Regions from separate parts of the Homo sapiens genome. Here all the other regions are linked to region 2. The links come from fine-mapping of genetic effects on gene expression. A gene starts in region 2. Each other region holds a variant in brackets. All regions are shown on one strand. Distances are between the middles of the regions.

Region 1 (4,000 bases), 200 kb after region 2:
CTCTCTCGCTCATGGTCTGACCTGTCATCATAGTAACTGGAGTCGTGGCCGGATCCTGAGAGTTCAGTCACTTCACTTCCTCCGACCTTCAGGACTAGCTTTAGAGGCTTCTCCAGGGGCTTGTCGGCATAATCTGCACAGACACAGACCGAGTTCTACCCGCGTGCTCAGGTGCAAACGCCACGCAGCCAGGTGAGACGTGAAGGTGCTAAGAGGGAAAGGCCTCCCTAAGGAGTACAGCGGGGCTGCCAACCAGCAGGGAAAGACGGAAGGGAAGACCACAGTGGCGGCATGTCACTGCCTCCTTGTTCTCCCTTCCCCTCCGCAGGGAGCTTCAGGTCCCTTTCGAGCCACGGTGTCCTCACCAGAGGCCCTGTGGGATGTTGTTCACATTACTCGTTCAAGAAGATGGATTAAGAGGGACCTGGAACCCCGGAGCCCGATCTCCCTCCTAGAAACCCCCAGCACTTCGGTTCACCCTCGCCTGACTTCCTGCAGGCGCCCGTGCTGCCCGCTGACACCCATGGAGCTGCTGCGGGAGCAAGGGAGAGGGAGGGAAAGGCGGGAGAAAGGGCAGCCCAGCTTCTCCCTGAGCTCCACACAAAAGCCAGCACAGATGCTTCCCTAGTCTCCAGGACCGGGGTGAGTGGGCTTGCAGCCTCGAACCCAGAACCCTCTACCAGGAACGTAAGCGCCTACCCAGGACCCCTCACGTGTGCCCGGTTCCCTGCCCGAAATCCCAGGACCCCCTCCCGCGTGCCCAGAACCCCTCCCTCGTGGCCAGGACCTCGCCCGGTGCCCAGGACCCCCGTCCGCGTGCCCGGAACTCCTCCCCCGTGCCCGGGACCCCGCCCGCCGCGCGTCACAAAGCGCCGCCGCCTCACCCTCGTAGGACGAGCGCCACTCGGCCTTGTGCTTCTTGTGCTTCTTGCCCATGGCGGCGCCGGCGGCGGGCCCGAGGCGGGGGCTGGGAACAGCTGGCACCCGGTCGGACCTTGGCCGCCACCGCCCCCTGGCCCTGGCTGGCCGCCCGCGCTCGCTGCGCCGAGGTTGCCGAGCTCGCTGGGCCGCGCCGGAAACGGGGCGAGGCGGGGCCGCGGCAGGAAGTGGCCCTGCCGGGCCCGAGCGCTTCCGGGTCAGGAGGTGGTGCGCCTCGCGCGGCAGATTCGAAGCTAGGGCGGGGCCCGCGGGCTGAGGCAGCGGCTGTGGCGGCGACGCTGGGCGTGAGGTGGCGGCGGCCGCGCCCTGGTTGGGTCCCCACTGCTCTCGGGGGCGCCATGGACGAGGCCGTGGGCGACCTGAAGCAGGCGCTTCCCTGTGTGGCCGAGTCGCCAACGGTCCACGTGGAGGTGCATCAGCGCGGCAGCAGGTGAGCCGGACCTGTCCGACACATCCTCTGGGCACCCACCCGCCCCGACCCCAGCGCGTGCACCGAGCCCCGACCCCAGCGCACTGATTCTGATGCGACCGAACCCCAGGGTACTGATCCGGCCCGACTGGACCCGGGCGCACAGGCCGCCGGGCCCCGACCGGATCCTAGCGCAATGACGCGACCCCACCGCAGGGCACTGACCCGGCCGACCCGAGCCCTGCGCGCAGGACCCCAGCTCACAGATTGAGCCCCGACCCGACCTCAGCTCACGGACCTGGCCCTGACCCTGCCCCTGCCCCGGCTGTCCTCCAGTGCATTGATGTGGCCCTGAGTCCCACGTTGGAGAATAGGATGGCTGCGCATTACAGAGAGCTCTAGTCTCAGCCGAAAGCTGGGTGGTTATTCTTTGAGCCACTGCTTCTCAGACCCTTTAATTGTTCCCGTTCCTCACGGACTCGATGTTAAATTTTTAGGGTTCAAAGCACATCCCACTCATTTGTGACCAAGTCAGTTCATGGTATGGTGGGGCCTGTGGGCTGTGCTGCTCCCTGGAGTGGGGGGAACTCAGCGGCGGGGCCAGACCTTCACAGACCCTCCTTATGTCCACGGAGGGTGGATTGAGGTCAGGTGAGACCACCAGCCTCAGAGGGGATGCAGAGGAAGAGACCTTTCCTTTAACAGAATAGCTGTTGACTGGGTATTTTCTAGGTGCTGGAGTTCAGACACGTCAGCATAATTGCACCAGGGCCCAGAGACACCTGCACAAAGCCCCATCACAGCCTGGCGACACCTGTGTAAACACCTTAGCGCTCAGAGACACCTGTACACAGTGCCACCGCAGCCTAGAGACACCCCATGTACAACCACACCTGGGCCCAGAGACGCTAGGCATAATCACACCAGAGCACAGCTGCACCTAGAGGACAGACACCTA[C/T]GTACAACTGCACCAGAGTTCATAGACACCTGCACACAACCGCACTATGCATGGTGGTCGCTGCTTGTAGGGTGCTGGGACGATTGCAAAGGGGCCACATGTCACCTGCCTGGCTCTGAGGAGCCTGTCCAGGAGGGCTCAGAGGGAGGCAGACATTGAATAGGACTTAGAGGGTGACTGCAGTTGATCAGGCCAGTAAGCTGGGACAGTGCATAGCAGGGCACAGAGGTGTGATCCGGGACCAGGTCACTGTTGTAGAAAGGGGAGGTGTTAGGAGGACTGCAGCAAGGGGGACCAAGGGAAGCCCTGGATACCAAGCTGAAAGCATTAGATTTTCTCAGCACGAATCACGGCTATTGGAGACTTGTTACAATGCAGACCCCAGGCCTGACCCCACAGCTGTGGAACTTCATTAGTAATAGTGAAAGCCAACATTATTGCGTGCTTACTATGTGCCAGGTATCGTCCTAAACACTTTGAGTGTATTAATGACTTCACAGTAGCCCAGCATAGCGAGAACTCTTACTGTTGTCCCCTTTTTCTAACTGGGAGCTGAGGCACAGCTTCTTCAGGGCACAGCTGGTAGAGGACCCACAGGCAAGGGGTGGCTCTAGATTTGGTCCCAGGCAGGCCAACTCCAACTTACCCTGTTAACTACTGGGCTTTCTTATGTATTGTCTGAGTTTTTCAAAACACTTCATTTTAACATTTTGTTTTTGAACTAAGATCATTTATGTGTGTTTTGGCTTCTTTTTTTAGCACTGCAAAGAAAGAAGACATAAACCTGAGTGTTAGAAAGCTACTCAACAGACATAATATTGTGTTTGGTGATTACACATGGACTGAGTTTGATGAACCTTTTTTGACCAGAAATGTGCAGTCTGTGTCTATTATTGACACAGAATTAAAGGTTAAAGACTCACAGGTAAGTTACTAATTTGCTGGGCCAAGGAACAGTTAGCTGAATACAAAAGGTTGTATCATGAATGTCTTGCCGTTTTCATAGCCTGTTGTCAGAAACAGGTTCACTTCTCTGTTGGTTTGGGTGGCTAGACAAGTTCTTTTCACTAGCTGTCAGGAGCCAGGTGCTGGGAGTAGGAAGTAGCCCTGATGTCGGGGTGCTCTCAGTATAGCAGTAACAGATTGGAAACCAGGAATGAGAATGCAGTGCTGTACAATAGTGGGCTGCGCTGGTAAGGCCTGTGTGCCATGTCTCATTCTTTCAATCAGCAAATGTTTATAAAGTGCTCAGTGTGTGCTAGGACCATAGGAGGTGTGGGGCCACAGAGATGAGAAGATGGGCTTGCCTTATAGAATTCCTTTATCTCATCCCATGCATGGCCACCTCACCCACCATCTGAGTTGATGCGTATGGGTTAGAGGAGCTTTGTGTGAGGGCGTGGAGGCATTGGGGCGATTCTGGCACCAGTATAAAAACAACCTGAAACATTCCTAAGGAAGACTTATCACTTACAGCAGTACAATTCCTGTCCTGTAAGAACCAGCTGTGAAGGACAGGCTTGGTACTAAGTTCTGCTCGTGAGGTGGACCTCCCCATTCATACGTTAGGACTCATGTTTGTGCATGCTCAGAGCTTTGTGCACACTGAGATCTGATAATGCCGTGGTTTTGGCCAGTCTGAGGGAAGGAAGAGCTTCCCACACTGTTGTGGAGGGATGGACACCCTAACTGGA
Region 2 (4,470 bases):
CCGGGCCCTGCCCAGCCCGGTGCACGAACCCTGTTTACCGATTCCCAGGCCTAGGGCAGCCACTGCCAGTGTGAGGCTTGCAAATTAGGGTAGGGGGTCAAAAGGAAGCCCCTGTTGACCATTTCTGTGAGCATTCTATGCTCATTTCCACAACGAGCATTTATAACCTCGTATAATCGCTAAAACATTTATTGCAACTTCAGGGAATTCGGGAAGATAGACCAACCGCAGCTGTAAGATTAAAACGCAGCCAGTGACCAGCGGAGCTTCCTCCACGCACACGCGGTCCAATCCCCATGACTTCATGTTTTGTGAAGATGCAAAGCGAGTTCATGCCGGCGCCTTTCTGAATCAGAGATCCGTTTAGAAACCATGAAAGCTGCAGACCCCTCCCGGGAAAACGCACACACCCTCCTGGAGCTCGCCTTCTGCAGCCGCTCCGGGAGCCCGCCCCTCCCCCACAGGCCCTCCGAGGATCACGTGGTGGGGAGGCGCTGGCACCGAGCGGCTGACAGGCGCGAGAGCCCAGTTCAAGGCGGCGGCATCAGGCTGCAGCTGCCTCACTCCCCTCCACTTCCTGCCCCTTCCCGGCCTTGGTCCAGCCCCATCTCCTAGTCCCAGGCCACAGGGAGCTGGGTCACCTCCCAGGGGCAGGGGCTGGCTGGGCGTGGGGGGAGACCTCTCCCCCTGAGAAGTCAGGCGGGGAGGGGTGGCCGGGGTGGGCGGAGGGGCCCAGTCCTCTATCGGTCCCCCAGGGGCCCTGCAAGCAGAAGAGCCAATAAACATGCCAGGTGGATCAGCGGTGACACTGAGAGGGAACGCAACACCCCATCAAAACAGCAGCCCCCCAACCCCCATCAAAACAATAGCCCCCAACCCCCATCAAAACAGCAGCCCCCAAACCCCATCAAAACAGCAGCCCCCAACCCCCATCAAAACAGCAGCCCCCAAATACCCATCAAAACAGCAGCCCCCCAAACCCCATCAAAACAATAGCCCCCAACCCCCATCAAAACAGCAGCCCCCAACCCCCATCAAAACAGCAGCCCCCAAATACCCATCAAAACAGCCCCCAACCCTCATCAAAACAGCAGCCCTCAACCCCCATCAAAACAGCAGCCCTCAACCCCCATCAAAACAGCAGCCCCCTAAACCCCCATCAAAACAGCAGCCCCCCAAACCCCCATCAAGACAACAGCCCCCCCAACCCGTATCAAAACAGCAGCCCCCAACCCCTCATCAAAACAGCAGCCCCCAGACCCCATCAAAACAGCAGCCCCCCAACCCCTATCAAAACAGCAGCCTCCCAACCCCTATCAAAACAGCAGCCCCCAACCCCCTATCAAAACAGCAGCCCCCCTAAGCCCCCATCAAGACAGCAGCCTCCCAACCCCACATCAAAACAGCAGCCCCCCAGACCCCATCAAAACAGCAGCCCCCAACCACCTATCAAAACAGCAGCCCCCAACCCCTATCAAAACAGCAGCCCCCCAACCCCCTATCAAAACAGTAGCCTCCCAACCACCTATCAAAACAGCAGCCTCCCAACCCCCTATCAAAACAGCAGCCCCCAAACCCCTATCAAAACTGCAGCTCCCAACCCCCTATCAAAACAGCAGTCCCCCAACCCTATCAAAACAGCAGCCCTCCAACCCCCTATCAAAACAGCAGCCCCCCAAACCCCTATCAAAACAGCAGCCCCCAACCCCGTATCAAAATAGCAGCCTCCCAACCCCTATCAAAACAGCAGCCCCCCAAACCCCCATCAAGACAACAGCCCCCCCAAAACCCTTATCAAAACAGCAGCCCCGCCACTGCCCGGGAGGGACAGGCTTCTCACCTCCCTCGGCTCCGTTTACGTAACCGAAACCGCAGAATAAAGGGCTCCTCAGATCTTCGGGCGCTGCTCCCAGGGGTGCGGGAAGGTGTCCCGGCAGCGCCTCTCCATCGCCACAGGCCCGCGGACAGTAGCCAAGACCCGGGGCAGCTGGAGGCTCTGCGGGGGGCGGTCTGACAGCCCCACCTGCCAGGACGCGGTGGTGTCAGGACCCTGAGATGGGCCGTTTCTGTGGCCAGGGATCTCTCAAAACCTGCTGCGGGCAGTGACTTCATTCCAGCCCTCCACGCCCTAATTTCCCACGCCTCACACCGGCGGCCCCCTAGGCCTGGGAATAGGGAAACGGTTCGAGTCCCGAGCTGGGGAGGGTCTGGAGGGAAGGGCTGCAGGGGCGTCCGTGGCCGCGAAGAAAGGCCAAAGCGCCAGGCACAGGGCCCGGAGACGGTGACAGACCTGTCCCTGGCGCGGCCGACGGTGACCCCCGCTCGCGGCCTTTGCAAAGCCTCCCCGTCGCGTCCTCGCACCGAGCCCGCAGCGCCGAACTCCGGGCATCCCAATCCGGGGGCTCAGGGACGCGCGGGGCGGTCCGGGAAGGGGGCTCGGGGGAGCGCGGGGGGCAGGGGCTGCGGCGCAGGTGGCTGCTGGGGCTGACGGGCCCAGTCTCCGCCCCCGGGTGCCCCCCGCGCCGCGCCCGCGGGACCGAGCCCCGCGCCCGCTTACCTTGGAGACGCAGCGACTGCAGCGGAGGCGCCTCCGCGACTCGGCCGCGCGCGACCCGGTGCTCAGCGGAGCTCTCCAGCCGCCGCCCCGCGCCCGCCCGTCCCGCCCAGCACCGCCCAGCCCCGCCCAGCCCGGTCCCGGGCCCGCCCCCGGCCCCCAGCGTCCGGCGCCCGCCCAGCGTCCCGCCCCGCGCGCTCATTGGCAGCCCCGCCCCCGCCGCCCCACCCGGCCCGGGGACGCGCGGGCGCACCGAGACCTCTGCCTTACAAGGCCGACTCTGCTCAGGCCCCGCGGACCGCCGGGTATCCGCTCAGCGCAGGGCGCGGCCGACCCGCGGGTCGTGGGAACCGCTGGGCAGGGGGCGGCGGGGCCCCTCACCTGGCTCTGGGGCCCCCCGGGGACGACCGGACCCCGATCTCTCCGCCCCGCAGGACGCGCGTTGACGGTGCGGCGGGGGATGGATGAGCGCGGCCGCGGCCTCCTGGGGTGGGGTGGGTTGGCGGCGGGGCCTCGAGGACGGTGCGGGGCGAGCCCCGACCGCGCCCAGTTCTTTAAGGAGCCGCAGACGGTGCAGGGAAGCGGCAGGGCCGGGCTGTGAGGGTGCTCGGACCCCAAGGCGGGGCGCACCCAGGGGACTGGGCTTCCAGGTGGGGGCAGCGCGGCCGGGGATCGACCTGAGCAGGGAGACGGGTCCGTGCCGGGCGCCCAGCGCAGCTGCTCGGGAGTGGGCCGCCCTTCACGCAGGAGTGGAGGAGCGGAGCGCGCACCCCTGACCCCGGCCTCAGCTTCCGTTCTCCCTGCAGGTCGCCCGTATGCAGCGCCACCATCCCGGCCGCTCTTCCAATCTCGCCTTTCTCCGGGCACCTGCCGCCCCTCCCCCGCTCCCCAGACAGGCTTTGCGGAGGGGGCTCATTCCGCCCGGGGCTGCCCGGCCCTCCGCAGGAGTTGGCTCCCCACAAGGTTCCGGGGCCGAGATGACAGGGCGGTTCTGTGGTGCTGGGTGCTGGGACTTGAGGGGCATAGGGGCACCTGCCCTGGAGGAGGCCGAGGCGCAGCCCCCCAGGAGGAAGGGGTGCCTCTGGTGACTTTCAGCTGGACTCTTCCAGCTGGACTCTAGTGCAGCTGAGCTCCTCCCCCAGCCCCGGCTCTGTCCCTGCACCAGGTGTCCAGCAGGCCCTGGAATCCGCAAAGGCAGAAGGGGAAGTTGGGGTGCTGGGTGCTGGGCAGGGGGTGCTGAGGCCTCACAGCCCGGCGGCTTGGCCCCCACCCACCCCACGGTGGTCCCGCGCCCCACACTTCCTCTCCTCTCCTGTGGTTTCTCCTTCCACTCAGTGCTGCCCAGAGATGGGCTTCTGTCTAGTTCTCCTGAGAAATTCCACACTCGCAGCTGGGAAGTCGGGGGACCCCCGAAGCTGTGCGGCGGCCACGCTGCGGCTCCTGCTTCCCTCCTGCTCGGGTGCGGGCTCGGCTGCCTTCTCGTCCCGCGGAGCCCGGAGTGCCTCCCCCTCGGGTAGATCCTACTAACAGCATCAAAGAAATAATGAAATAATCTCTCCTTGGTGTGTTCTTACCGTCCTAATAGGCACAAGGGGACTCTTCAGTGCATTTTCCAAAACCTGTACAAACTCTCTTGACATAAATGCAGTGAGTTTACAATAAAATCGCAGTGGGAGGTAACGTCAGGCTTCAGAGGCAGACATGGTCCTGGAGCCTTTGGGAGGAGAGGAGAGGAGAGGCAGCGGGCGCGGGGCGGCGTCCAGGGGGCTGAGCGAGGTCTGGGCAGGAGGACAGAGCTGAGCCTTGGGCTGCCCTGGCCCCTGCGCAGGACACACAGTGACCGGGGCTGGGGTGGGCACCCCGGTTCTACCGTCGGGAGTCGGCGTGTTCATGGAGTCTGTTTCCTTGTCTGTGGG
Region 3 (4,470 bases), 41 kb after region 2:
GTGGTCTCAAACTCCTGGCCTCAAGGGATCCTCCTGCCTTGTGGGCCACCCAAAGCTCTGGGATTTCAGGTGTGAAGCTTTGTGCCTGGATGGTACCCTTAATCTGCTTTCTTGCAGCTACTCTAATGGGGTGCAGCAGTATCTTATTGTGATTTTAGCTGGTGGTTCCCTGGTGGCAAATGATGTTGAGCACCATTTTGTGGGCTTTATTTCTCATGGATATTGTTGCCTTGGTGAAGAACGTGTTCAATCTTTCACCCATTTAAAAACTGAGCTGTTGTGTATTTTTGAGTTTTCATGGTTCTTTAAATATTCTGGATAAAAGTATATGACTTGTAAATATTTTATTTCAGCCTGTGGCTGATATTTTCATTCTTTTACTGGTGACAATGGAAGAAACAATTTTAAATGCTTAAAGTCAAATGTATCCGTTTTGTGAAATAGTGTTTTTGGTATCTATCAAAGAAGAGTTTGCCTAACACAAGACTCCGGAGATATTCTAGGATTTTTGTAGGAATGTTAAAGTTTCCCCCTCTTACTATGAGGTCTCTGATGGATTGTGCACTGCTTTCTAGGTGGGACTGAGCTGTGTGTGTGTGTTTGGCATGTGGTTATGCAGCTGCTGCAGCACAGTCATTACAAACCCTTCCATGTCTCCCCATTGCCTCACCTTGGCACCTTCCATTTAGGCCAAACACCAGAAATGTAAAGAAGGGCTTGTTTCTGGAGTTTCCAGTTTGTTCCATTCATCGAGTCAGGGTGTCTTCTTTGGACAATGCTGTCTGCAGCCCTGGGCCCACTCGAAGGGGAGGCGATGGACTGTAGGTCTGTGGAGCTCAGCACAGGGCTGTGCCACGGACTTGGGTGTCAGTGAAGTCACGCTCATTTTCAGACGGAATTCTCCTCCCCGATGTGAACAATGAACCGACGGTGTCATTTTCATAGGATTGTCCTGGAGCCCACGGAGATGCGGGCTTGGGATTCAACGTGATGCTGAGCGGATCTTCTCTGCTTCAGACCAGGCCTCATGTGGCTTCACTATTCATCCACACATAGATGCTGCAGAGACACCGAGGGGACTCACAAATGCACCTGTGCAGAAGGTGTCAACGTGGACAATCGCAGGCAGAGAAACTCCCATGAGCCCGTGTGCCACATGCAGTGAGGGAACTTTGGTGGCTGAGTCTGGGCGGGGGTGGGCTGGGGGCTCGATTGGTTTCCACTGAGTGTCTCCAAATCTTTGCTGGAAGTGCAGGCAAGGGGCAAGTCTTGGACACCAGCCTCACTGTTCCTCCAGGTTGGGTGATCCATTTTCATTTCCAAGTCACAGGAGCCTGTTCCCTGAAATCCTGGGGAAGTGCGGTGAGGCGGCCCTGCCCCCACAGGGAAGGACAAGTCACCTGTAACCTCCAGAAACTGGCCCCCTCACAAATCCTGCTCAAAAGGACCAGCCTGTGGCCTGGCATGGAGGCTCACGCCTCTAATCCCTGTGCTATTAGAGGCTCACGCCTCTAATTCCCCTGAGCCTGGGGAATCACTTGAGACCAGAAGTTCCAAACAAGCCTGGACAAGAGAGTGAGATCCCATCTCTTAAGAAATAAAAAACAAAAAATAAATTGGCTGGGTGTGGTGGCACACACCTGTACTTTCGGCTATTCGGGAGGCTGAGGTGGGACAATTGCTTGAGCCCAGGAGTTGGAGGCTGCAGTGAGCCATTATCCCACCACTGCCATCCATGTTGGGTGATGGAGTGAGATCTCATCTCTAAAAAATAAATAATGACCCAGCAGAAACCACTGGAAGCTGACCCCAGAGCAGGAACAGAAATATGTGGCCCTAAAGCCGGCAGCCGCGCTGGTCTTTTCCTGTGAAGGATGGACACAGAGTCCATGTAACAAACACACACCATTCACACACATATACAACTGACCACACACTACACACAAAACCACACACATAACCACACCCCCCCACATATGTGCAACCACACACCATACACTTGTACGTGTGACCACACACACATCGTCTATTCCCATCTGTCTCCCACACACAGTCCTTCCTGAGCATTTTATTTTAAAAACACAGCATGTGGCTTCTGCCATGGCTACCAATCTCCTTCCATCCTTTATCACAGCACTGTCCCTCGCTGCATGTTCTGGGCACTTCAGACCCTGCCCTGGGCATCTGCCCATCACCGCAGCTTCTTGGTGGTGCTCCAGTGCTGGGGGCTCCCACTTTGGTACCCATCTGTCTCTGTCACCCACAGCTGGGAAGCATTCCTGCCTCTCACTCCATCTCTCTTCTGTGCTCCACCCACCATCATTCCCATGTGAGCAGCACCCTTGGACACAGAGTGCTTC[T/C]ATTCTGAATACTGCCTTAACCTCAGCTTGGGGGACCCGAGACCACATATTCTGCACACGGCCCTGTCCTCAGGGTGCATTGCTGGTGACTGCAACTTACCTGTGCCTTCGAATCCCCGTCCTGGTTTACTGAAGTGCAGAAGTGACATGGGCATTTGTAAATCAGCAGGGAGCTCTTGGCCTTGACTCTGGTGGGACAGGAAGGAGGAGAGAAACTCATCTCAGCTTTGTGGGGGGGCTCAGGGTGGCACTGGAGGCTGCACCGCGTCGTGTCAGCACCACTGCTGTGGGGCACACATGTCTCAAAAACTTGTAGACCAGCAGCTCCTGGGAGGTTGTCTAAGTACTCCTGCGTTATGTGCAGTGGCACACGTAAGAAGCTTCTCGTGTAAAGGACCATGACTCTTTGCCACTGGGACAATGCAAAGCAGTCCCTCCACCCACCGTGTGAGACTTGCCCTACACCAGTGCCTAAGACGGGTTCTGAAGAGTGATGGCAGATGGGAGACAGGTCTGATATGCAGCTCCCACATGGAGAGACAGAACAGCATGTGGAGACTCATACTGTGGCCTTTCACTCCAGGAACCACCACAGCAGCATACCAGAAAAAACAAAAAGTCACAGAGCCTTTGGAAGATGCCATAGGCCACTGCAAATTCCACAGAACAGGTGACAACTCCGCTGCTGTCTCAAAAGTGCCACCTCCTGGCTGGAGGCCAATCAGCTCAGGACATGACAGCAACTCATGACAGAACAACCCTGCTCCTAGGAAGGAGAAAACAAGAGCTTATTCCACCTCCTGCAACATCCTGGATAACCAGAGGTCCTGAGTCTGCCCATGTGACAACTTCACTGCTAGAATAACCAGCCTCTGAGAAAGTCAGCACAGTAAACCTATCGGCCGCCGAGGACCTCCACAGAGTCCACTTCGGTCCCCTGTCACCTCCACCGGAGCAGGTGCTCGCATCCACAGCTGGGAGACCTGAGGACGGATCACATCACAGGACTCTGTGCAGACATTCCCCAGCACCAGCCTGGTAGCCCTGCTGGGTGGAGAGACCCAGAAGAACAATAGCAATCACTGCTGTCTGGTTTGCAGGAAGCTCCATCTCTAGGGGAAGGGGCAGTGCACAAATCAGGGACCACCCCATGGGACTAAAGAATCTGACCAGCAGCCTTGAGTTCCAGATTTTCCCACTGAAATAATCTACACACATGAGAAGGAATCAGACGAGTAATCCTGGTAATATCATGAAACAGGGCTCTATTCCACCCTCAAAAGACCACACTAGCTCCCCAGTGAGAGATCCAAACCAAGAAGAAAATCAGAATTGCTGGAAAGAATTCAGAAGGTTGATTATTAAACTACTCAAGGAGATACCAAAGACAGGTGATAACCAACTTAAAGAAATTTAAAAATCAATACAGGATATAGATGAAAAATGCTCCAGGGAAATAGAGATCCTAAAGAAAACACAGTCACAACTTCTGGAACAAAAGACACACTAAGAGAAATGGAAAATGCACCAGAAACTTTCAACAGCAGGATCTAACAAGTAGAACAAAGAACTTCAGAACTCAAAAACAAGGCTTTTTAAATAACCCAGCCAGACAAAGAGGAAAAAAATAATTTTAAAAAAGAACAAAGCCTCCAGGAACTTAGGGATTATGTTAAACAGCCAAACCTAAAAATAGTGTTCCTGACAAAGCAGACAAATCCACAAGTTTGGAAAACTTATTTGAGGAAATGATCAAGGAAACCTTCCCTGGCCTTGCTAGAGTTCTAGACATCCAAAGACAAGAAGCTCAAAGAATGCCTGGGAAATTCATTGCAAAAAGATCATCACCGAGGCACATGGTCATCAGGTTATCTACAGTCGACACAAATCAAAGAATCTTAAGAGCTGGGAGGCAAAACATCAGGTAACCTCTAAAGGAAAACCTCTCATATTAGCAGCAGATTTCTCAGCAGAAACTCTACACACTAGAAGGGATTGGGGTCCTATCTCTAGCCTCTCCAAGCAAAATAATTAACAGCCAATAATTTTGTATTCAGCAAAACTATGTTTCCTAAATGAAGTAGAAAAAATGTCTGTTTCAGAACAACAA
Region 4 (4,470 bases), 98 kb before region 2:
GTTTAATATTTAAAGATGCACTGTGGGCCATGTGCGGTGGCTCACACTTATAATCCCAGCACTTTGGGTGGCCGATGTAGGTGGATCACCTGAGGTCAGGAGTTTGAGACCAGCCTGGCCATCATGGTGAAACCCCGTCTCTACTAAAAATACAAAAATTAGCCAGGTGTGGTGGCGTGTGCCTGTAATTCCAGCTACTCAGGAGGCTGAGGCAGGAGGATCACTTGAACCAGGTAGGTGGAGTTTGTAGTGAGCTGAGATTACACCACTGCACTCCAGCCTGGGTGACAGCGAGACTCCGTCTCAAAAACAACAACAAAAACAAAAAGACACACTGTGCATGTCCCTGGCCCAGGGCAGAAGTCACAGCCCAGCCTGTTGCCATTAGACACTCTGTTCCGTGACATGTCCCACGAGTCCCACACGTTGCCGAGGCCAGATCTTTACTGACCACTGGAGCCACCTTATGGCCTCAGGATGTGGCTTTGCTGGCATTCCTGTGGAAGAGGCACTGCCCCATCCATGTGCCACCCTGTGCTGTGATGGGGAGCCTGGCTGCTGCACTCACACTCGGGGTGGAAAGCAAAGCCCGACCCCTAATTTAGCCAGTGGGACTCAGGAGCAGGCCATTCACTTGTTCAATTCTGTCCATACTGAAGAGACGCCGGGCCCCTGGCAAGAGGCTACAGAGCCTCTTGCTTCCCTCAGAACCTCTCCTGGGGATAAGTTCCTGTTGTCCCTAAGTCAGCAATGAGGCTGAACCAAAAAGCAATGTGGCCAGGCCAGGGAAACCTTCTCTTTACGGCCAAGAAGTGGGGACCTGCATCTTTGGCCAAAGCAGACTTATGGGATTTAAGGACAAAGAGGCTAAATACACAAAGAAAAGGTGTGTGTACGTGTTTCCTAGGACTTCTGTAACAAATTATTGCACACCGCATGGCTGGAAACACTGGAAGTGTATTCTGTCACTGTTTCAGAGATGAGACGTGTAATTCAAGGTGTCCACAGGACCATGCACCCTCCAAAGGCTCCAGGGAGGAACTTTCCTTGCCTCTTTCCCTTTCTGGTGTTGTCCACAATTCTGGGTTGTCCCTGGCTTGTGACAACATCACACTATGCTGGCCTTCCTTCTCTGTGTGTCTGTGTGTCCAAATTTCTCTCTCTTATAAGGGTGTCATCATTAGGCTCACTCCAGTCCAGTGTGACCTCATCTTATTTAATGACATCTGCAAAGACCTGATTTCCAAATAAGGCACTGGGTGTTGGGATTTGGACATACCTTCTGAGGGGGAACTCAATCGTACCCACAACAGTGTGCTTCCTCTTTTGGATACACTGGGGATGGTTCCCTCTCTCTGGACCTGATACTGCTCTTTCCCCAAAGGCCACTGATTAGTCAACATGCTCCCTGGGGCTCATGTCAGCCAAGGAGGGCAATTGATTTCCAACCACCTGTCAACATCTGCTTTACCCCCTGGGCTGAGAGCTGAGTTTCCCACAGTGACAAGTAGGTGATAAAAGACAGGTGTCCAAGTGTTTCCTGGAGAAAAAGCACTGGTTTAACTTATTTAATTAGTTCCAGAGAAGCAGTCAGACAGAAATGACACATCCCCTACAGGGCACAATAATCCCGGCTGCAGTTTCTCATCAGATGCTGTGCAGACCAGGATGTGGAAGAACATTGAAAACAAGAAACCAAAGGAAGCACCAAGCCAGAGTTGTGCATCTGTGAGAATTTCAGAAATGGAGGAAAAATCGATGCAAGAATACCCTTCAGAAATGAAAAAATCGACCGAAAATACCCTTCAGAAATGAATTAAAAATCAACACGAGAATACCCTTCAGAAATGAAGGAAAAATCAATGCGAGAACACCCTTTGGAAACGAAGGAAAAATCGATGCGAGAACACCCTTCAGAAATGAAAAATCAACGTGAGAACACCCTT[C/T]GGAAATGAAGGAAAAGTCGACGTGAGAACACCCTTCGGAAATGAAGGAAAAATCGACGCGAGAACACCCTTCAGAAATGAAGAAAAGTCGACGCGAGAACACCCTTCGGAAACGAAAGAAAAATCGATGCGAGAACACCCTTCGGAAACGAAGGAAAAATCGACGCGAGAACACCCTTCGGAAATGAAAGAAAAATTGATGATCTCCAGTGAGGACGCACTAAGAGAATTTGTTGCCGGCACACCTGCTTTAAAAGATGCCAAAGCAAGTTCTTCAGCTTGAGGGAAGATACAGAGGAAAACCCACAACCCCAAGAAGGAAGAAAGGGCAAGACAAGCAGTAAATGTCCAAGGAAACACAGCACACTATTGTTCTCCTCTTTACCCCAAGTGACTTTTCTTGCTCTGAATCTATTTTGTCTCACATGAATAGAGCTGTTTGAGGATTTTTGTGTAACTGATGTTGGCCTGATAGCTCTTTTCCCATCCTTTGACTGTGAAACAGTCTGTATCATTACATTGAAAATGAGTTTCTTGTAGACAGCATGTAGATGAGTCTTTAAAGTACATATGATGGTTGAAAGCAACAATTAACAACATTGCTTGGTTGAATTTTCAATATGTGCAGGTGCAATACGATGACTGTGACAAAGGGCACAGTGAAGGGGCCTTGGTGGGGACAAGGTCCCAGCATTCCAGCCAGAAGTGGTAAAATATTAATTCTGCATAGACTGGCAAGGTGAGGAGGAGTTAGAATGTATATTGCAATCCTTAGAATGACAATACACAGAGATAGAATTCAAGAAACCATTAGATAAATCAAAATGAAATACCACAAAATATCCCAATAATCCAAAAGAAGACATGCAAAGGGGAAAAGGAGAAAAAATCAGAGGTGCCAAATAGAGGACATGCAAGAAATGCTGGACCTAAATTCAGACACATCAGTAATGAATATAAATGTAGATGATCTAAACATACTGATTAAAGGCAGAAATTATCAGACTGGATAAAGGCAAGTCTTATCTACAGGCTGTCTATAAAAACCCTCTTTAAATACAAAATATAGGCAGATTAAACATAAAAGGATAGAAAAAGATATGCCAAGCAAACACCAATTAAAAAAACTGGAGTGACAAAGTAGATTTCAGAGCAAGGAAAATTCCTAAGAGTAAAGAGGGACGTTGCATAATGACAAAGGATCAACTCCCCAAGAAGACCTAGTAATCCTAAACACATATGCACCCAACGATAGGGCTTCCAAACACACAAGACAAAGACGATAGAGCTGCCTGAAAGGGAACAGGCAGCTCCATACTGGAATTGGTGACCCCAACATTCCCATCTCAGTTGGTTAGGGCTGCCATGTCAAAATACCACAGACTGGGGCCTTAAAGGGCAAAAATTTGTTTTCTCACCATTCTGGAAGCTGGAGGACCAAGATGAAGGCTGTTGGGGTTGACTTCTCAGTGTTCTCACATGGTATTTTTTTGTGCTGGTGTGGAGAGTGAATGATTCCTGGCTTCTTTCCATCTTCTTGTAAGGACATAAGTCCTATTGAATCGGACCCCCTCATATGACTTCTTGCAACCATAATCACCTCCTTACAGGCCCTGTCTCTAAATACAGTTACATTGGGGGTTAGGGCTTCAACATGTGAATTTTGTGGGACACAATTCAGTCCATAACAACTCCTCTCTCAGTAGCTGATAGAAAAGTGGACAGTAAATTAGCAGGATATGGAAGAACTGACCAGCTCCAGGAACCAACTGGACCTAACTAACATTTATAAAACGTTCTGCCAAACAACATCTACATACACTTTCTTTTTGGTCATAAAATGCATGTGAAAAAATTTAAAATACAAAAAACCTACAATGGTGTTAAACTAGAAATCAATAATATAAAAATGCCTAGAAAACCTCCAAATAGGTGGAAATTAAACAACACACTCCTTAGACAATGCAAATGTTGAGGAGAATGGCTCAGAAAAACTGGAAATCACTTGAACTGAATGAAAATGAAAAATATAGCAAAATGAAACAGTGCTTAGAGAGAAATTTATAGAACTAAATGCTTATAGCCCTACAAGCATTTAGTTAGAAAAGAAATGCTAATATTAAAAACAGAAGAAAATTATAAATCAACAATCTAAGCTTCCACCTTAAGAAATTACGAAAATAGGAGCAAATTAAACTGAAAGCAGGCAGAAGGAAGGAAAGAATAAAGATAAGAGAAACCAATGAAATAGAAAACAGAAAGACAACAAAGAAAAATCAATAAACTAGAGGCTGGTTCTTTGAAAAGATCAGTAAAATTGATAAAGCTTTAACCAGACTGATTAGCAAGGGAGAAAGAGAGATAAATTTCCAGTATCAATAATGAAAGAGGATATATCACTATTGACCCACAGACATTAAGAGGGCAATGCACGAACATTATGAGCTACTCCCTGCATATACATCTGACAACTTTGAAGGAATAAGCCAATTCTTTAAAAGCCACAAACTACCAAAACTCACTC
Region 5 (4,470 bases), 24 kb before region 2:
AAAACGATTTCAAGAAATGAGAACAGAGTCAGAAGACTGACTACCCAACTCCAAAGCTCATCGAGGCTTGACTGCAAAGTGGCAGCGACGTGGGCACGGGCACGCGGCCAGCCCCGCAGCCCAGGGGGAGTCTGGCTCAGCCACATGCATGCTGCCCCCCCGATGTCTACAGGTGCAGAGGCAAGCCAGAGAGAAAGGACTGTTTCTTCCACAAGTGGAGCTGGAGCAACTGGTGATCCCTGTGCAAATTAAAATGCACTTTGGTCTATACTGCACACTATATACAAAACTAACTCAAAATAGATGACGGTCCTAATTATGAAACTAAAACTTCTAGAAGAACACCAAAGAGAAGATCTCTGTGACCTGGGGTTAGGCGAAGATTTCTTAGAAATGGCAACAAAACATGGCCTATAGTGGAAAAAATGGATGAACTAGACTTCATCAAAACGTTCGAAACTCTGCTCTCAGAAGACACCGTTAAGGGAATGAGAAGACAAGCCACAGACTAGGAGACATGCCTGAGAAAGGACTTGTCTCTGAGATACACAAAGGAACCTTAAAACTCAGCAGTAAGAAAAAAAATCCATGTGAAAAGACGGGCAGAATATTTGAAGCAGACACCACCAGAGAAGACACGTGCATGCAGACAAGCACACGGAGAGGGGTCCGCGTGGGCCCCATCAGGGAAGTACAGACAAGCACACGGAGAGGGGTCCGCGTGGGCGCCGTCAGGGAAGTACCGACAAGCACACAGAGAGGGGGCCGTGTGGGCGCCGTCAGGGAAGTACCGACAAGCACACAGAGAGGGGGCCGTGTGGGCGCCGTCAGGGAAGTGCGGACAAGCACACAGAGAGGGGGCCGTGTGGGCGCCGTCAGGGAAGTACCGACAAGCACACAGAGAGGGGGCCGTGTGGGCGCCGTCAGGGAAGTACCGACAAGCACACTGGAGAGGGGTCCGCGTGGGCCCCATCAGGGAAGTACCGACAAGCACACGGAGAGGGGTCCGCGTGGGCCCCGTCAGGGAAGTACCGACAAGCACACGGAGAGGGGTCCGCGTGGGCGCCGTCAGGGAAGTACCGACAAGCACACAGAGAGGGGGCCGTGTGGGCGCCGTCAGGGAAGTGCGGACAAGCACACGGAGAGGGGTCCGCGTGGGCGCCGTCAGGGAAGTACCGACAAGCACACAGAGAGGGGGCCGTGTGGGCGCCGTCAGGGAAGTGCGGACAAGCACACTGGAGAGGGGTCCGCGTGGGCCTCGTCAGGGAAGTACCGACAAGCACACAGAGAGGGGGCCGCGTGGGCGCCGTCAGGGAAGTGCGGACAAGCACACGGAGAGGGGGCCGCGTGGGCGCCGTCAGGGAAGTGCAGATGGAAACCACAGCGAGGCCCCTGCACACTCTCCAGGGGGCTCAGACAATCAAATAAACTGCCGGCACCTCGAGCTGAGCAGGCCGCGGGGTGGGGGCCTCGTCCACACCCGGCCGAGCAACGCGGCAGAGCCACTGTGGACAGCTTCTCATCACAGCCAAAGGTGGCCCAGCAGTCCCGTTCCTGGGTCCTTGCTCAAGAGAAATGAAAACAGAGGCTCACACATAAACGCAAATGTTTACCACTGTTCTGCTCGTAGTCACCAAACCCCAAACAATCCAGTGCCCTTCAGCAGCGGCCAGACCACAGTGCTGTGATGTGTGCGCACGTGGACAGCACCCCCACCCCTCGAGAACAAGCCCAGGATACGCACCCAACGCGGTGGGTGCCAAGTGGCCAGGCTTGGAGCCAGGCACGGAGGTGCCGCTGGGTGATTCCCAGACCCCAAGGCGGATGCTGTGTTTAAACAGCACCTGAGGGTTCCCATACACTTTACACGCGTGTCCTAAAGACACAACAGACACCATCAACAGCGCTGAGCCAAAGAAGAAATCGCGCTGAGAAACACACCAAGTGCTCGGGGTCCCACAGCTCAGACCCTCACGCCTCATGGGGTCCCAGGGAGGGGAGCGGAGGCCTCGCTGTGTCCGGAGGGGGCTTTGGGGAGACAGAGCCCCAGGGCGGGGCCTGGACTGCTGAGGGCAGCCACGCAGGGCACATTCCAGACCCGCCGGCCATAGGGCGCTGTTGTCCAGCAGCATCCCCCAGGGGGCGCTGGTGAGCCCGGTGAGCCGGAGGTGCCCTGGGCAGCTCTGTGGCGTGGGGGTCCGCGGTGTTGGGGGTGGATTTAGCCCCTTGACGCGCTCGGCGTGGACACCCGCACGTTCCCTGTGGTGCTAGAAGAGCCAGGCCACCCCAGGCAGCCCACAGTGCCTGGAACTGACAGTGCCCATTGGGCCCTGTGGGGGTGTTGACTCTCTGGGGCCCTTGGGGCCTCTGTCTGTCCTGGGCCGTCAAAGGCTCTCCTGTCTTCTATTCCCACCCTGCCCAAGCTGACATGCGGACGCCAGGCCTGACTGCCAGCCTGGTGACCAGTGCTGAGGCACGCAGCCCTTTCTGACGGCCTCGGAGCCAGGCACCACCAGCATGAGTCACTCGGCGGGAGGGGGATGGCTGAGGGGCTCCCCCATCAGAGGCGACATTCAGATCCGGACACCTGCTCTGCGCGCTCCCCGAGTGTCT[C/T]GGGGAAAGGGCGCCCGGGTCTCTGCCCCACACGGGCGGGGAGCTCTCCCCAGGAGACCCGGGTGCCCCCCGCCTGGGGCAGTCCTCAGGAGTTCTAGGACAGCGGTGCCTGCCTCTTCCCCAGAGACACTCAGTCTGGCTGCCCGGCTCTCCTGACATAGAGTGGGCCTGTCCTCCAGAGACCAGGGTGCTGGAGGAGCCTCCGAGTGTGGAGCTCGGCATCCTCATTGCCCATGCTCTCCCCAGCCCGGCGCCCTGCCCCAAAGCCGGCCCAGCAGGACGCAGCCGCTGCTCATACACGATGCCCTGCGGGGCCTGGACTTGCTTCCCAGGCTCTGAGTCCCCTGGCCTCTGGGCCTGGTTCAGTCTCTCAGGGACACTGGGACCCGGCCTGGGGCCTCCAGGAGCTGGGCTCAGGCCAGGACAGCCCTCCGAGGACTGAGGCCTGTTCCTCCGGGGCGGACGTCACAGGCCCCGCTGGGCTCGGGACTGTGCATCCAGCACCCTTGTGAATCAGGAATGCCCTCCCATGGTGCCCTCTCTGAGGGGCGGGGGCCGGCGGGCGAGGTGACAGCTACCAGCTCCCCTGGGCTCTCTGGGCCTGCAGCTGCTGTGGCTGGAGTGCCCTGTCCAGAGGCTGCCACAGGTGGGAAGCTGGGGGCTGTGGAGGGGAATCTCTGGGGAAACAGCCTCTCCCTGTACTTAGGCGAGTCTGAGAGAGAGGGGCTGCGGCTCCCCCAGGGCACCAACCTCTGGGATCTTCCATTAGCCCCTGAGACCTGAGGAGGCTGGGAAGGACTCCCTGGCTGCTGGGCCCCACGGGGGGAGGGGGAGCTTCTGGGGAGGTTCCTACCTGGTAGGGACGCGGCCTTAGGGGAGCCCTGTCTGGCATCGCCATCCTGCACGTCGCTCCGAGTTCTCACTGCTCCAGGAGGGTCCAGTGGTCCCGTTCCAGCAGGACCCAGCCTTGGGGTTCCCCATGCCTGTTGGCCGCCCCTGCCTCCCGCAAGCCCCAGCAAGATACAGAGGACCTAGAGCAACGTTTCCCGGGGCCGACAGAGGTCGGTGGCAAGCCCTCCAGGCCCTGCCTATTCTCCCCTCATAAGTGACTCCACCAGCAGCTGAGCACCTGGGGGCAGGTGAGGTGATGTCTGGCCACCTGAGAGGGCTTCTCCCCTCATCTCAGGAAACCGGAGCCCTTCCTGCACCCTACTTGGCTCAGAGGATGGATGGCAACGTCCACTGGGCCACGGCAGCTCAGGCCCCAGGGCGGGCTGAGGGCCAGGGCCCTCCCATTGCTGCACCAGCTCTAACCCCAGGCACACCCACCATGAAGCCCCCACACAGCCGGTCGGGGGGCTGCCTGAGCTCCGGAGGTCTGGCTACCGAAGGCTCCCCCCTGCCTGAGGGGCCGCCTGGGATCAGCGCACTGTCTCCCTCTGGGCGCACACCCTGCGCTTGCTGCTAATTAATTTTGCGTTGCTGCCGGCCTTTTCGTTTTCCTGGGGAGGGGCGGGGGTGGGGCGTGTGTAGTCACCGCCCTGTGGACATCACTAGGAAGAGGTGGCCCTTGGTGGGACGTGGACTTGGGGCCCAGAGGGACCCCGGGCAGATCTGAGGGGCCCGACCTTCTCTAGGGGGCCCCAGGGGCTCGGCTGCCTCCATCCACCCCAGTCTCGGCCTGGGCAGGGCTTTGGTCTGTGCACCTGAAGTCAGTTTCTGGCTGTTTGTTTGGAGATCACCTTCTCAAATGACCTGTGTTGCCTGGTCAGGCTCATGGGGCAAAGTGGACAGCCAAGGCCACGCCCACCACTGGCCAAGCGCAGGAGACGGGTGCCTGTCGCCGCACAGTGCTCT
Region 6 (4,470 bases), 70 kb after region 2:
GCACCACTCCGGACTGGCAGGGGCAGTGACCCGGCCCACCCTCCCAAGGAACCGCTGCGTCCCCACCTACAGGGCCTCCTGACAGTGCAGCGGGACAGGCCACCACCACCTGTGCAGCGTTCTTCTGAAACTGCTCAGCTTCAACCACACAGACCCCCAGGTGGTGGAGCAAGACACTGGTCTGGATATGCCATGATGCTGTGGTCAAGGAGATACCAGCAGCTGCCAGGAAAAGGCAGGCGGGCGCTGTGCTGACCTAAACACACCAAGAGACTCCGTCGCAACATGCCCAGAACCTCGGCCGGATTCTGGATTAAAAAATCCTGTCAAGCACATCTGGGGGCTGTTGGAGAATGTTGGCGTGGACTGCCTTGACCACGGTCCGATCACAGCCTGTCTTCTCACCTGCCATGAAGGTGCAATACAGGAGGACACCCGTGTCTGGAGGGCATGTGCTAGAGCAGGGAGGTGGGCCGTGCAGCACAGGGTTAGTGACTGTGGGCTTTAGTGACATCCTCATCCCTCACTGCAGGACACCCGGGGCCAATGGGGCTGCCATGCAGCTCTGTGGGTCTGTGGATTTCTGGGCCCTGGAGGTGGGGGAGGCCATCTAGGACCCAGGCTTTGGGGGTATGGGGACTCAGGGATGTAGGTGGAGAACTCGGAGGCTGGGCCACAGCAGAAGCTGGGCCAATGGCAGGGGATCTTGGGGAATGCCAGCAGGGCCACAGGGCACACCTTGGGCCTGGCAGAGAGAGGCCACTACTCAGAACTATGACCTGTCCTCCTGATGAGTGGAGGGGCGCAAGGCTGGCAGTGTGTGCCGGGTGGACACGTGGGTTGCCACGTTCCAGCACCTCCCATGGTAGAAGCCTGAACCCCCACATGTGTGTCCAGGCCTTAGAACCCCATGGAACCCCCACTCTGGTGACTGGGCACACTCAGGGCCTCTCAGAAAAGGCCTCTTGGGAAGTGAGCACTGCTTCCCTAAATCCCTTAGGATTGGGAAGGCCACGGAGCAGACAGGGGGACACAAAGTCTTCTACTCACAGCCCTGGACAGCCTCTCACAGACCAGACAGCCACCCCTAGCCCCAGACAGCCACTCACAGCCCTGGACAGACACTCCTAGCCCCAGACAGCCACTCAACTCACAGCCCTGGGCAGCCACTCACAGTCCTGGCTGGCCACTCACAGCCATGATGGCCACTCACAGCCAAGAGGGCCACTCAACTCACAGCCCTGGAGAGCCACTCACAGCCCTGGATGCCCACTTGCAGCCCAGACAGCCACTCACAGCCCAGACAGCCACTCATGGCCCCAGACAGTCACTCCCAGCCCCAGACGGCCACTCACAGCCCAGATGGCCACTCAACTCACAGCCCTGGACAGCCACTCACAGTCCCAGCCGGCCACTCACAGTCCCGGCCAGCCACTCACAGCCCAGATGGCCACTCCCAGCCCTGGACAGTCATGCCAGCTCCAGATGGCCACTCACAGCCTCAACGGCCACTCACAGCCCCAGACAGCCACCTACAAACAAGACGCAGGTTGCAAGAGGGATGCAGCAAGATAGCGCCCAGGATGAGTGTATGCCACAGTCAGCACCCACGTCTCTCACTAAAGCACATCCTTGGACCCCTGGCAAGGCTCTCTGTGAGACCAGCTGGACCCAGCCCATTTCAGACTTGTAGATAGGGTGTGGCCTGACCTCCCAAGGGAACTTTAGCTGCACAAGGCACCCCAAGACCCAGAGACTGAGCCCCAAATCCCCAGGGAGACACCCTTGAATCACTAAGCCAGATGGGGTGGTTGAATGAGAGGCCAAAAGCCTTACTGGCAGTGTGTATCTGTCTGTGCATGCCCGGGTCTGTGCATGTGCTCACAGAAAATACATAGCTTTAAACACACATTAAAAAGTAAGAAAGGTCTACAATCAATGACCTAAGTTTCCGTCTTAAGATGATAGAAAAAAAAGCAAAGTAAACCCAAGGTCAGTTGAAGGAAGTAGTAAAAATAAAAGCAGAATTTTTTTTTAATAGAATAAAAACAGGCAAACAATAGAGAAAATTAATAATTAAAAAGCTGACTCTTTTCAAGATCAATAAAAGGGATAAGCCCCAGGAAGACTGATGAAGAAGAGGTAGGAAGACACAAATGGCCAGGATAGTGAGGAAGGAAGGCGCAGCACTCAGACCCTACAGATGGGAAAAGGATTGTGGGAAACACTGTAAACACCTGTATTCCAAGAAATATGACAAATTACATGAAATACTCCAATTTCCTGAAAAACACAACCTATCAGCTAGGCGCGGTGGCTCACGCCTATAATCCCAGCACTTTGGGAGACCGAGGTGGGTGGATCACAAGGTCAGGAGTTC[A/G]AGACCAGACTGGCCAATATGGTGAAATCCTGTCTCCACTGAAAAATACAAAAATTAGCTGGGCGTGGTGGCACACACCTGTAGTCCCAGATACTCAGGAGGCTGGGACGGGAGGATTGTTTGAACCCAGGAGGCAGAGGTTGCAGTGAGTCGAGATCACACCACTGCACTCCAGCCTGGGTGACAAGAGTGAGACTCCCATCTCGGGAAAAAAAAAAAAAAGAAGAAGAAGAAGAAAAATACAACCTATGAAAATAGAAACAAGAAAACAGAGAAACAGAATAGCTTTTTTATCAAAGAAACTGAATTCATTATCAAAAGCCTTCCCACAAGGGAGACTGTTGCACTTGGGGAAAAATCCAGCCAAGTCTAGACTGAGGGGCCTCCTGTGGGCAAAGGCATCAGTTTCTCTGACCAGTCAAAGGCCTGGGAGCAAAACGGATGGAGGAAAGGGGGCTTCAGGGACACAGCAGCCCCATGGCACGTGGGCTCCTGATGTGAGCCACGCATCTGTAGAGACTTGTTTCGAAAATTGGGGAAATGGCCACATGGATAAGAACGAATACAGGATGTTAAGAAATGGCTATATAATTTTTAAGTGAGATATTTTTAAGTGAGATAAAGCATGGTGTTATAAAAATAAAAGTTTGTTAGACACAAACTGGAGCATTTACAGGTGAAATTTCCCGATGTCCGAGATTTTTAAAGGTTACTCGGATACACATGCATGTGAGATATAAAACAAGGTTAGCAAAAGCTTCACTGTTGAAGCAGGTGACTGGCACCTGCGGGTCCGCTTGACTGTACTCTCTACCTCTATAAACTGAAAGACGCCACAGGAACAAGTTTCAGGAAAGAGAGACATGGCCTTGCCCATGGCTGAGGCACTCAGGCTGGCAGGCTGCTGTCCTCATGGCACCTGCTCACTCTGCATCCAGCCCCTACACCTCCCTGCCTGCACCACAGCGATACACACCACGCTCACCATTTACCAGAGACTTGCCCGGGATGGCCCAGCCCAAGGACCACGCAGTGGTGTTGAGAGGTGACAGCACGCTGGCAGCCCTGGCAGCCCTCGCTCACTCTCGGCACCTCCTCGGCCTCGGTGCCCACTCTGGCCACACTCGAGGGGCCCTTCAGCCCACTGCTGCACTGTGGGAGTCCCTCTCTGGGCTGGCCGAGGCCAGAGCCGGCTCCCTCGGCTTGTGGGGAGGTATGAAGGGAGAGGCACAGGCGGGAACCCAGCACTAGTTCGGGGTGGGCATGGGCTCAGCGGGCCCTGCACTCAGAGCAGCCGGCCGGCACTGCCGGCCCCGGGCAGTGAGGGGCTTAGCACCTAGGCCAGCAGCTGTGGAGGGTGCGCCAGGTCCCCCAGGAGTGCTGGTCTGCTGTAGCTGTGCTCAATTCTCACTGGGCCTCAGCTGCCTCCCTGCGGGGCAGGGCTCAGGACCTGCAGCCCGCCATGCCTGAGCCTCCCCGCTGCCATGGGCTCCTGCGCAGCCCGAGCCTCCCCAGTGAGCACCGTCCCCTGCTCTGCGGCACCCGGTCCCATCCACCACCCAAGGGCTGAGGAGTGCGGGCACATGGCACGGGACTGGCAGGCAGCTCCACCTGCCCCCGGTGTGGGAGCCACTAGGTGAAGCCAGCTGGGCTCCTGAGTCTAGTGGGGACTTGGAGAACCTTTATGTCTAGCTAAGGGACTGTAAATACACCAATCAGCACCCTATGTCTAGCTCGAAGTTTGTAAATGCACCAATCAGCACTCTGTATCTAGCTAATCTGGTGGGGACTTGGAGAACCTTTATGTCTAGCTAAGGGACTGTAAATACACCAATCAGCACCCTATGTCTAGCTCGAAGTTTGTAAATGCACCAATCAGCACTCTGTATCTAGCTAATCTGGTGGGGACTTGGAGAACCTTTATGTCTAGCTAAGGGACTGTAAATACACCAATCAGCACCCTATGTCTAGCTCGAAGTTTGTAAATGCACCAATCAGCACTCTGTATCTAGCTAATCTGGTGGGGACTTGGAGAATCTTTATGTCTAGCTAAGGGATTGTAAATACACCAATCAGCACCCTATGTCTAG
Region 7 (4,470 bases), 53 kb before region 2:
GGCGGTGCCGTGATTACGCCTACGGCACTGACCGTGTCCCAGGATAAAGGGAATCATCACACTTAGGGTTCCAGGGTGCTTGCTGCTGCGTTTTGTTGGACGTGTGCCTCTGTGCCACACGCTGTCCTGCGCTGCTGTTCTGAGTGGAAGCCCCGTGGTGGAGAGAGGGGACTCTGCCTTACGGTGCACAGGGCATTTGTCTCCAAAGCTGGAATCGGGCATCTTGGCCGGCTGAGCCATTGATGACCCTTTCGTGAGGGGAGGATCCTGGAGGTCGCTGTGATGAGAGACCGAGTCACTCCACCCTCAGGGTGACCTAGAGGTCAGGGGGACAACTGGCGCAGGCCCAGTCAGAGGCGTTGAGACACACCTGCTGTAGACATGAGTGCAGACCACCCAGAAGGGAACAGGCAGGGGCTGTTCACTTGGTACTTGCCACAACGAGGGCTTCAGACTCCCATGCAGGCAGAGGAGCTTGAAGGTGCGGAACTGTGGGACAGGAAGGGAGGCATGGCCGGAGCTAGAGGCAGCTCCGTAGCAGCATGGGGTGGGGGGGGGTCCCAGAGCTGGGTGGGGCGTGTTTGACGTCCCCGGCAGGTCCTGAGCTGGAAGGAGGCAGAGATGGGGGAGGTGGGCGGTCTGTTTCAGGGTTATTGTTTGACTCCGGGCCATTGCTGGGGACAGCGCCTGGCACCCTCTACCAGCCTGACTGTGGGTGCAGGCTGCTTCCTGGGCAGCTCCTTTTGAACACAGGCTCTGACTGCGGCCTGGATGTGTCTTCCGCTTCCCTGTCTGGGTTGAGGGGAGGAGTCTGGGGCCTGCTTGAGTTGGGAATGTGTGGGCCCCGTCCTGTCCTGTCATCGAGACCTCACTCATCCAGGACCGGTGCACCTGGCTAAGCCTCACTGGGCAGGCACTGCTGAGCCGCCCTCCACCTGGCTCAGGGCTGGGGCCTCAGGGCACCTGTCCTCCCCTTCGTGGTGCGAGGGCATCCCAGGGTGCGCTTGGGCACCTGCTGGCATTCAGGACCTCAGTTACTGACTCGCTGGCCTCATGCTGTTGTTTCCATCACAGCCGTCTCCCGGGTCACACTCGGCTCTACCCGGGAAGAAGACGGCCCTGCAGGCGGCGCTCCTGGAGACGCTCTTGGACCTGGTGGACAGGAGCTGGGGCGGCTGCAGGTCCCTGCACAGCAACGAGGCATTCCTTGGTGAGTCAGGGCGGCCACTGCTCTTGCCCTGTAGGCAGCGTCTGTGTGGGTTCCGGGGTCCTCTGCGTGTGGTGACCTAGGAGTCATCTCAGCCCCAGGTCTCCTATGTCCCCTCCCACGAGCGTGTGGTGGTCCCGCGCCTGGGCCCTCCCTGGCAGTCTTTGCATCTCACAGTGTCCAGGGCTCTCGGGAGACACCACATGGGCCTGGGCCTGTGGGTCCCCCGCTGTGCTCTGGGGTGTTGGGGGGCCTGTCACCTCATTTTGCTCAAAATGCTGTCCAAAGGGGCTTGGTTCTGATGGCTGTGATCACATGGGGATTTGGAGTTTGGAAGCTGCTCAGCATCTTCTCCCCCGACCCAGACGTGTAGCCTGTGCTGGGCCTGGATTGCAGAGCTTTTGGTTGGTGTGGGACCCAGGAGGGTGGTCCCTCCCCAGAGAGGACTTGGGTCTGTTGGATTCTACCAGGCAACCCGTACATGAGCACACTGGGGCCTCCCTCATCCAGGATCACACTGGGAGACCAGGAGATGCCGCGTCCCCAGGGGCACCTTCTCTTTGTCCTGCATCCTGGGGTGTGGCTGTGTGTGTCCCTCAGGAGCCTAGCCAGTGTGCTTCTCCCCGCAGACCCTGGGCACGGCTCTGAGCTGTCTGACTGCGCCTTGCAGTGTTATAGCCCCTCAGC[T/A]CCTAGAATGAGGACGCCCTGCAGTCGCAGCCCACCTGGACCCCAGCCCCATAAACCTCCCCTCTCCCTAGGCTGGTGTCCTGTGGGAGCCTCCTGAGCTTGCCATCGTCGGTGGCGGGGGGACTGTCCCAGGCCCAGGCCACTGTCCCAGTGTGGAGTTGCCAGCTGTCGTCTGCATGGTGGTTTCCACACAGGGCAGTCGGTGCTTGTGGAAGGCGCAGCGAGTTGTGGCGGCGCCACTGAAACCTTGAGACGTGGCGGCCCCTGGTTGCCCCTTTTCTTGGAGGTCACCTCTTCTCTTTCTTCAGTTCCCACCCTGCCCGTGTGTGGACGCACAGAGCCTGAGGTGGTTTTGTGGCGCCAACACCCCTTTCCCCTCTCCCTACCTGTCGTCTTTTTGAGGCATCGTCTGTGTGATTCAAAACATACTGAGCCGATTTTGTTTACATTTCATCCTTTAAGCCTAAGTGCTAATGTAATATTTGGTTTTCACTCCTAGCTCAGGCAAGACACATCTTGTCATCTGTTGAAGAATTCACAGCAGCTCAGGACAGCTCTGCGATGGTGGGTGAAGATGTCGGCTCCCTGGCTCTGGAGAGTAAGTCCCTGCAAAGCCGCCTTGCTGAGCAGCAGCAGCAGCACGCCCGGGAGATGAGCGAGGTGACGGCGGAGCTGCACCACACACACAAGGAGCTGGTGAGCCCGCCCTGGCGCTGTGTCTGTGTCCATGTGACTGGGGGAAACATGGCTCTGACTTCCAGGAACGAGGGCAGCTCCTTGATGCCACACTGTCCCAACTGCCATCTCTGCAGCCCCATGTCTCCACTCCCTGCCCGGGACCCGGCCACCCCCGGAACGCGGCCTGCCCTGTCTCACAACAGGCCTGGAGCACTTTGGAGACAGCAGTGGCGCTGGCCACCTTCTCTCCCCGGGCCCAAGGGACCCTCCACCACTGGGCAGTGCCGGGTGCTGCAGGAGCCAGGCCTGGACGTGACTTTGTCTTGCTGACCCATCTCTCAGGGCCTCGAACTGGGGAAAACCGAGGCCACTCTCCTTTTATGAAGGAGATGACGGCCAGTGTCCCATGGTGAGCTGGGGCTACAGGGCAAGTTACCCCAAAACCAGCAGCTGAAAACCTGCATTTATCACCTTGGATTTCTGTGTATTGGGCCTCAGGCTCAGCTCAGCCAGGCTCCCTCCTTCCGTCTCAGCCGTGGGCCGGGGCCGCCGTCTCATCTGAGGCCTCATGGGGGCTCTGTCTCAGCCGTGGGCTGGGGCCACCGTCTCATCTGAGGCCTCACGGGACAGGATCCTCCCAGGCTCCCTCCACGCTGCAAGGGCCTCCCCACGGGCTGCTGGCATCCTTAGCACAGGGAGCTGGTGGTCAGAGAGCCACACCCAGGCAGAAGCCGCCCTCCGGGAGTCCTGGTGTGAGGGCAGAGCCACGTGAGGATGTGCACATCCAGAGGGGCCTTGTCAGCATCTTTAAATTGCGAGTGAAGTCGGCCCGGGACGGCTTCGAAAACTGCCTCTGAACTTGTCTGACAAGTACATACTGTCCGTTTCATGGGAACCAACATCTCAGAGATCCCACACAACGCTTCCTCTTTAGAGAAGAAAAACACAGCAAAACAACACAGGCAGCCTCTGTTTAAACGCACGTGGCCCCCCCACCCCGCCTGGAAGCCTCTGCACGTGGCCTTCATCTGGAAGCCTCTGTATTTAAACACATGTGGGCCTCCTCCATCTGGAAGCCTCTGTATTTAAACACACGTGGGTCCCCATCCCCCGTCCAGAAGTCTCTGCATTTAAACACACATGGCCCCCCATCCCCCATCCAGAAGCCTGTGCATTTAAGCACACGTGGTCCCCCGTCTAGAAGCCTGTGCATTTAAGCACACGTGGTCCCCGGTCCAGAAGCCTCTGCATTTAAGCACACGTGGTCCCCCGTCCAGAAGCCTGTGCATTTAAACACACGTGGTCCCCCGTCCAGAAGCCTGTGCATTTAAACACACGTGGTCCCCCGTCCAGAAGCCTCTGCATTTGAACACACGTGGTCCCCCGTCTAGAAGCCTGTGCATTTAAGCACACGTGGTCCCCCGTCTAGAAGCCTGTGCATTTAAACACACGTGGTCCCCCGTCTAGAAGCCTCTGCATTTAAGCACACGTGGTCCCCCGTCCAGAAGCCTGTGCATTTAAACACACGTGGTCCCCCGTCCAGAAGCCTCTGCATTTGAACACACGTGGTCCCCCGTCTAGAAGCCTCTGCATTTAAACACACGTGGTCCCCCATCTAGAAGCCTCTGCATTTAAGCACACGTGGTCCCCCGTCCAGAAGCCTCTGCTTTTAAACCAACGTGGCCCCTCCTCTGGAAGCCTCTGTATTTAAACACACATGGCCCCTCATCTGGTGGAAGCCTCTGGATTTAAGCACACATGGCCCCTTCTCTGGAAGCCTCTATATTTAAACACGTGTGGCCCCCCGTCTGGAAGCCTTTATACTGAAACACACGTGACCGGCTGTCTGGAAAGTGAGCTGGGCGCCGTCACTGATGATGTCTTTTCTGTGGGACACA

Alleles and levels. Positions count from the first base shown, and alleles are read on the strand shown. Sizes are in standard deviations (SD) of each study's normalised expression. Not every link is listed here.
For the expression in lymphoblastoid cells of the gene that starts at base 2,632 in region 2, C is the high allele of the variant in region 4 and T is the other (moderate effect, 0.55 SD a copy in GTEx).

What was found. PIP is the estimated chance that this variant, and not a neighbour inherited with it, causes the effect.
Region 1: its variant is fine-mapped to the expression of TPPP in whole blood (TOPMed, PIP above 0.99).
Region 3: its variant is fine-mapped to the expression of TPPP in whole blood (INTERVAL, PIP above 0.99).
Region 4: its variant is fine-mapped to the expression of TPPP in lymphoblastoid cells (GTEx, PIP above 0.99).
Region 5: its variant is fine-mapped to the expression of TPPP in putamen (GTEx, PIP above 0.99).
Region 6: its variant is fine-mapped to the expression of TPPP in whole blood (INTERVAL, PIP above 0.99).
Region 7: its variant is fine-mapped to the expression of TPPP in whole blood (TOPMed, PIP above 0.99).

Annotation. Positions count from the first base shown.
Region 1 is chr5:891,722-895,721 of GRCh38, forward strand. BRD9 (bromodomain containing 9) reads right to left here and starts at 1,080. Exons shown (of 16, transcript NM_023924.5): 1 at 885-1,080; 2 at 1-133. The coding sequence starts at 936. It overlaps TRIP13 (thyroid hormone receptor interactor 13), which reads left to right and starts at 1,163. Exons shown (of 13, transcript NM_004237.4): 1 at 1,163-1,369; 2 at 3,066-3,231. The coding sequence starts at 1,278. RefSeq lists silencers at 421-639, 830-1,449 and an enhancer at 449-1,081. The variant C/T (reference allele first, on the strand shown) is at 2,307.
Region 2 is chr5:690,721-695,190 of GRCh38, forward strand. TPPP (tubulin polymerization promoting protein) reads right to left here and starts at 2,632. Exons shown (of 4, transcript NM_007030.3): 1 at 2,558-2,632. LOC101929898 (a long non-coding RNA gene) reads left to right here and starts at 2,820. Exons shown (of 2, transcript XR_925675.4): 1 at 2,820-3,002; 2 at 3,361-4,470. RefSeq lists enhancers at 2,058-2,640, 3,554-4,432 and a silencer at 2,635-2,884.
Region 3 is chr5:731,292-735,761 of GRCh38, forward strand. ZDHHC11B (zDHHC palmitoyltransferase 11B (putative)) reads right to left here. Exons shown (of 14, transcript NM_001351303.2): 11 at 2,461-2,548. Among named protein-coding and RNA genes, the nearest start is that of TPPP, 40 kb to the left of the region's middle. The variant T/C (reference allele first, on the strand shown) is at 2,361.
Region 4 is chr5:593,125-597,594 of GRCh38, forward strand. No RefSeq gene overlaps it. Among named protein-coding and RNA genes, the nearest start is that of CEP72-DT, 17 kb to the right of the region's middle. The variant C/T (reference allele first, on the strand shown) is at 1,947.
Region 5 is chr5:667,127-671,596 of GRCh38, forward strand. The region is part of intron 2 of TPPP (tubulin polymerization promoting protein); the gene reads right to left. It also overlaps a transcript of CEP72 not described here. Among named protein-coding and RNA genes, the nearest start is that of TPPP, 24 kb to the right of the region's middle. RefSeq lists enhancers at 1,925-2,679, 3,968-4,137. The variant C/T (reference allele first, on the strand shown) is at 2,614.
Region 6 is chr5:760,786-765,255 of GRCh38, forward strand. All of the region lies in intron 4 of ZDHHC11B (zDHHC palmitoyltransferase 11B (putative)), which reads right to left. Among named protein-coding and RNA genes, the nearest start is that of ZDHHC11B, 22 kb to the right of the region's middle. The variant A/G (reference allele first, on the strand shown) is at 2,381.
Region 7 is chr5:638,015-642,484 of GRCh38, forward strand. CEP72 (centrosomal protein 72) reads left to right here. Exons shown (of 12, transcript NM_018140.4): 8 at 1,075-1,210; 9 at 2,394-2,590. Among named protein-coding and RNA genes, the nearest start is that of CEP72, 28 kb to the left of the region's middle. The variant T/A (reference allele first, on the strand shown) is at 1,895.